2 linked regions of the Homo sapiens genome follow. The protein of the gene in region 1 purifies or fractionates together with the protein of each later gene. This does not show direct contact. Each region holds a gene or a part of one and is shown on either strand. Other genes may lie near its edges.

What was found. Proteins that work in one complex are often made in the same cells at the same time.
Region 2: the proteins of ZC2HC1A (region 1) and SCPEP1 fractionate together in Homo sapiens (co-fractionation; one large-scale study listed by BioGRID). This does not show direct contact.

The regions. Positions count from the first base shown.
Region 1 is NC_000008.11:78,711,089-78,714,588, reverse strand, and holds part of ZC2HC1A (zinc finger C2HC domain-containing protein 1A), read right to left. Parts: intron 2,600-3,500; coding exon of another isoform or gene 2,483-2,599; intron 1-2,482.
Region 2 is NC_000017.11:56,991,631-56,995,130, reverse strand, and holds part of SCPEP1 (retinoid-inducible serine carboxypeptidase precursor), read right to left. Parts: intron 151-3,500; coding exon 113-150; intron 1-112. UniProt on the Homo sapiens protein: May be involved in vascular wall and kidney homeostasis.

The sequences.
Region 1 (3,500 bases):
ATGATATAACACTAAAAGCAGAGGCTTGGGAATTCAAATGAATTTAGATTCAAATGCTAATGCTACTGACAGCTTTGTGACAGCAAGTCTGAGTCTCATCATTTATAAAATGATCACTTATAGAAAGGTTATGAGAAAAAAAGTACAATTCATATAAACATTTAGATAGCTGATGCTAATACTATTACTACTGTTGTTGCCACTATAAGTTAACATTTATATAATAGTGCTTACTCCATGTCAAGTACAATTCTAATTATTTTGCCCATAGAAATTTATTTATCCTAATAATCCTATGAAATAGGTAGCGTTCATAACTCCATTTACAGATAAGACAAATGAGGTAAAGAGCCCCTAAGTAACTTACCCAAGGTGACCCTGCTAGTGTGTTCCAAAGCTAGGATTTAGATGTTCATTGAAGCATAGTTCCCTCCCTCTCTATAGAGCTTTAATCAAATCTTTAAATTTCACAGGTGAACAGTGTTATATGAACAGCAGAATACTTTAAAAAATACCTCCAGATTAGAGGTTCTTAAACTTTAGTTGAAATTTTTCTTACTCTACTTATATGGCAAAGTAGGAGAGAGTACCCTAAAATTGTAAATAGCTGCTTCCAAAGTACATGCAGGTAATAACAACATCCACTATTTTTCAAACAGCCACTACATGACAATTATGAAGCCAGATACTACACATGCCTTATTTAATGTCCCCCAAATCTCAGAAGATATTATTCCCATTTTAAAGTGGAAGCATGTTCAAAGAGATTATATAAATTGTGAGGCTACTACGTGGCCAGAGTAGTACTTGAACTTAAGTGGGCTGTATTACAGAACTCATATTCAATACACAATGCTGTCATTCAAAGTGGTTGCTTTGCATAGTTACTTCTTTAAATTACTTCTAAACTTCAACAAGCAAAGAATCACTTTGGTGCATGAATGGAATGCCCTGCACCTCTTCAAATGCTCACTCCAAGTCCATTCATGAGGTTTACTCTACTCTTGTGTATAGCCTCTTTGGGGATGTTGTAGAACTACTAGAGTCTTTTTCTAGAAATTCAATCTTTAGGAAATCATTGTCAAAGAATGGACTTTAAATAGGAAGAACACTTTTTTTTTTTTTGGCTATAGAATCGTCTTAAGTGCATGAGATATACAAACAATACAAACACACCCATGAATATATACACATAATGTCACCATATCGGTAACTTGAGGTTGTTCAAAATGTTTATATTTAGAGGAAAATATAAGAGATTATCATCATTAATAGCTACCAATATTAAATACCTGTCATTTATTTTTAGTAACATCTAGAATGGCCTTGATCACTTAAAACATCTTGCCCCAGTCTTACACAGTCCACAAATTTTTCTTTCTGTTCAGAATCTGCAAAGCATTACTCTTACTCTGTATCTAGAATCTACCTGTTAACAGCTCATATGAATAATTAAAGAAGGTTTAATTTTGGAATTGTACTTAATCCATCTTACTGCTAGTCACTGTTACTGTGAGATCTGCATCAGAGAGTTCTGACAGTAGAATCAGCAAAATGAAAAACGGCTCACAGCACAAACTCTTCCTGCTAGGATTTATCACTACTTAAAAATAGCAAATGGCTGCTGCTAGTATCTTAAAGACTTCTCCTACCTTTGTTTATCTAGTTAAATTTATTATTACTTTTCATACATACATACTGAGCAGACTGTTGTAGTAGGTGTTGGTTTAAAAGTTAACTAAGTTACTCTGCTTAATATTTTCCACCATTAATAGGTATATTAATTTTTAGGCCCTAATTTCATATTTAAAATGTGGGCTAGAATTGAGACCCAAATTAGTAAACCTTGAAGACTCATGCTGTAGAGTTTCAAAGTAACTGCCATTGCCACACACTCTTTTCAGCCAGCCAGGTCAGAACTGGCTGTGTCATACTCTTCCTCGAGCTTGACTCTTTGGCAGTGTCATACTTTTTCCCGGTTGTAGGCAGAATTTACAACCATCTAACAAAAAGACTAAGGACCCTTGGATTGAAAGTTTCCTAAAATCTTTTCTTTTTCTGGGCTTTTTATAATAGTTCACCATCGGCTTATCTAAGAGATAATCTAACAATATTATATACTGTACAAGACATTATTTTTCTCAAACTCTGCTTTTTAAAACTACTATTACAAAAAACCCTAATTACTACTAAAAAAAACTTCATAAAAATAATTATTAAATGTGACTGCAATTTGAAACCTCAAAAAATTAATATTTAATGGAATAAAATGTATAACCTAAAAAGTTTTATTTAGTACAACAGAAATGCTTACTAAAAATCAAAATGTTTTAAATCCTAGATTATTTGACACATTTTGGCTTAGAAATTATTCAACAGATTTTTTTAAGTATAGGACAGTAAAAGTTATGTTATTCCATTATATAAAGCTTTTAAGGAAATATCTGAAAAATATTAACCAAACTGAGTTACAAATACTTACTTGTAAATAGGTAATAACTCATGTCTTTTGATGGCACTGTCTGATTTTGTATCACTGTCATACAACCTTTGCACAAGTCTTCCCGTTCGAAGTGGAGGGCCTAACTTGTCCATATTACTATTAAAATATATAAAGGTGTACCCATAAGGAGATTGCTACTGCTTCTTTATATAAAGTTTTTTTAAAAGACATTATTCTGGTTCATCAGATATCTACTCCCCAAGTCCTTAATTTTATCTGACTGTCAAGGTAAGAACTAATGTCCAAAAGAATCCTCAGAGAGTTCATACAATGTCCATTATTAGGTCTGAAAATTCTGACTACACAGGCTACCCTACACATCCAAACAAATGTCAAATTATACACAGCAGGGCAATGGAATCAATGAAGAAACTTAGGAAGAACAACTATTTCAAAAAAAAAATCATGAAGCTATAAGTGAACTGAATGCTGTTATTCACAAATGATTTTTCTTCCTCCCAGAATTCATGGAAACTTTCTCTACTCTTCATATTATTTATTTCCGTGCTTTTTAAAATTCCAAAAATAAGGAATTGACTAAATAACATGTACTCCATTTGACTTTCTAACTCCACTGACTTCTAACAAAAAAGTGACTTTATTTCTGAAATGTATCCAAAGTAAAACAGGACTCGGCATGGAAAAAAAAAACATGGATGACAATTCTAAAAATCACATATAATAATGGTAAGGGGCCTATATATACACACACACATTTTGACCAAAATTATAAAGGCTCTCCATCTAGAGGATAGCAGGACAAACTGCAGGTTTGTAGGATATTTCACTGTTTTAAATCAACCAACCAAATAACTGAATCATATAAACTATCACCAACCAACATCTAGTCATAGTAGGAAGCAGGGAAAATTGAATTATGACATTAGGAAACAATCTTATTTGCTACTGAATAACACATCACTGCTTGTTAACTTTAAAAGTCTGTTCTTTTTAAGAGATATTTGCTCACTCATTTCTTTACTTATTCACTGACTAT
Region 2 (3,500 bases), on another chromosome or scaffold:
AGCAGTGTCAACCACATAGGCAAACTCATCCAGCATCTCTTTTCCTGGGGTCACAGCCAGAAGAGATCTGCTGGGCTGTTTGCCCAGAGGGTGCAGATGTGTATCTACTTACCATGCTGTACAGGTAAGGTCCCCAGGAGAGCACCGAATCTAAAGGAAATCACATATGTACAAATCAAGTATGTCATACCTCTGTCTTTCCAAAGACAAACCTACTGTCTTCTCTCTAAAGAAGAAAGAGACAGAAGCAAGAAACCCGGTGGCTTTGGATTGGAAGGCTCCTCAATTCACCTGTACCCATGCAGGAGGCGGGCTGATGTCTCAGTGTCTGGAAGGTGGGATAAGGGTGTGGGGGCCTTTCTGTTGACTCTTAAGACTAATGGCACATTAATTTGGCCTGATACTGGTCCAGCAAGTGAGTCATTGCCGATGACAGCATCCCCACAGGCAGGCTGTAGGTATGCAGGTGGAGGCTCTTATCTGTGGACCTCTAGGCCTTTTGACAGCTTAAAATATTTCCCCACCCTCACATTTCTGCTCTACATCTTATTTGCTCCTCCAGTTTGGAGATATTAGCTTCTGCCAAGGAGCTAAATAAGGAAGATGACTAATGAGTTTGCAACAGTGCAAATGGCTATATTGCCAATTGGCTTATTCCCATCCCACAAACATATTGAGAATTTACTAAGGGTCTAGAGGCAGCAAAAGCTTAAGATATAAATGTGAGTAACATAATGCCTGTCCTCAAAGAGAATAGTAGTTGACCTTGGTTTAGACAAGCTCACAACTATTAAATACTGTATCACTAGGTAAGACAAGTGCTATTGAAAGACACGCCAACAAAGAATCAAGGACCTCAACTTATAAAGCACATTTGAGTATGTCTCTCCTTAGCTTAAAAGTATTCAATGGCTCCTTAAGGCAAAGTGTCTCAAAGTAGGTTTCAAGTAGTCTTAGTTCTGCAGGAACTAAGTCCATGTTGCCCAGTCTGGTCTCGAACTTTTGGGCTCAAGCAATCTGCTCGCTTTGGTCTCCCAAAGTGCTAGGATTACAGATGTGAGCCACTACACCTGGCCTGGACTGGTATTCTTTTAGAGTACTCTCTGAGAAATGCAAGCACACCAGGACTTCCGTGGCCTAGCTGTTAATCACCTCCCGGGCTTAACCTTCAAACTTGTTTCTTAGTTTCTTAAAACACAGGATTGGCTGCAGTTCTCCAATGCATCCCACTTCCTGTTTGATCTGGGCCAGAGACTGGTAAACTTTCTGTAAAGGGACAGATAGTAAATAATTTTGGCCTGGTAGGCCAGCCTATCTCGGTTGAACTACTCCACTCTGTTCTTACAGCCTCCAAACAGCCATAGACAGTAAATTAACTTTTACCGGCTGGGTGCGGTGGCTCACGCCTGTAATCCCAGCACTTTGGGAGGCCGAGGTGGGCAGATCACCTGAGGTCAGGAGTTGGAGACCAGCCTGGCCAACATGGTGAAACCCCATCTCTACTAAAAATACCAAAAACATTAGCCAGGCGTAGTGGTGGGCACCTGTAATCCCAGCTATTCAGGAGGCTGAGACAGGAGAATTGCTTAAACCTGGGAGGCGGAGGTTGCAGTGAGCCGAGATCGTGCCACTGCACTCCAGTCTGGGCAACAAGAGCAAAACTCCATCTCAAAACAAACAAACAAAAACAAACAAACAACAAAAACTTATTTACCAGAGCAGGCGGCAGGGCAGACTTGACTCATGGGCCCTTGTTTACCAATCTTTGAAGTAGGCCTGCATTGTTCAATAGAACTTTCTACAGTAATGGAAGTGTTCTGTATCTGTGCAGTCCAAAATGCTAGCTAATAGCCACATGTGTCTATGGAGCACTTGGGTGTAGAGAGTGCCCCTGAAAAAATGAAATTGTATTTAAAAATTATAATTAAATTTATATAGTCACATGTGGCAAGTGGTTACCATACTGACATGGTCACATGGGCTTAGTGACAGTGCAGATCAAGACCTTCTTGAAGATCAGGAGCTTATCTGTGTATCTTTTCCTAGCACCTAGAACAGTATCTACTACCTAGCAAGCAATTAACAATTGTTCATGGAAATTAACAATACTTCTCCCTCAAAAACCAATGTTTCTGGGATAGAGGGGCAATACTTAAAGTGGATCTGGAAGGATGGATTACGATCCAGACAAACAGATTCATAAGGTAAAGTGGGTCACGGCAAGGAGAAAAAGGTAGATTCCAAACACAATGAATAACACTTGCAAAGCCAGGAAGCGAAACGTACTGATCTTGGAGAGACAATGTAGCAAGGTGGTTAGGTTGCTTGGATTCCAGTACCTGCTGCCTGGATTTGAATCCCAGTTCTACCATTTAGCTAGGTGACTCTAAGAAAGTTGCTTAACCTCTCTAAGTCTCAGTTTCATCATTTACAAAATTAGGATAATGATAGCATCCATCCCATGGAGTTGTTGTAAGGATTACATGAAGTTAGCACATGTAAAGTACTTAGTGCTACTGTGAAACTGAGGAGACCCCATGAGGAAGTGAGAGGGCCAGCATCATAATTTTGAGTCATAAACAACTCTTATCTGTGTTCCCAGTGAGGATGCTCAGTTATGAAACAGCACACCTCTGGGTTGCAAGACCTGATGGAGACTTTGTCTTGCCATCAACATGAACAAAAGAGCAGTATCTGACAAGAAACTCTCATGCTTCTCTAAGCTTCTGCAGTTTTATGATGTCCTACGAGATCCATCCAGGAAGGAAAGACAGATAAACGAATAGCAGCCCTCCTCTTCATGCTGACTCAGTTTTATGCTACTTCAGTCCTACCCTGCAGATGGCAAACATGAGGGCAAGAAATACTATTCCAAGTCGTAATGGTTATTGGGAATATGGCTCTGTAACAAGCAAATCCCTATCTTTTAGGGGTAAATATTACCTTTTATAAATGATTATTTTTAAAAAACTGAGCCATAATCACAAATCACAAGTGTACCTTCAGAAGAGTTTTGATGAATGCATATGCCCGTGTAACCACCCCCTGCAATCAAGATATATTTCCCTCATGTACCTTTCCTGCTTATTTCCCTCCTTTGCCCCTAGGCAGCCTCTCTTCTGATTTCTAACTCGATAGTTTGGTTTTGCCTGGGGAAATCACGTTTTGTTAGGTTAGAACAATGGTTCTCAATCAGGGATGGTTTTGTTCCCCAGGGAGACATTTCTGGTTGTCACACTGGAGCGGTGCTACTAGCATCTCCTGAGTAGAGGCCAAGGATGCTGCTGATAATATCCTACAATGCACAGGACAGCCTCCCACAAAAAGAACTATATGACCCACAATGTCAACAGTGCTGAGAAACCCTGTGTTAGAGTGAACGCCACCAGGATGATTGTTTCAGATGTCTGGGGCCACACCCTGGGTGTCTGCAACATAAACAACTCTTATTTATGCTCGCAACACGGATGCTCAATTACAAAACTGCACACTTCTGAGTT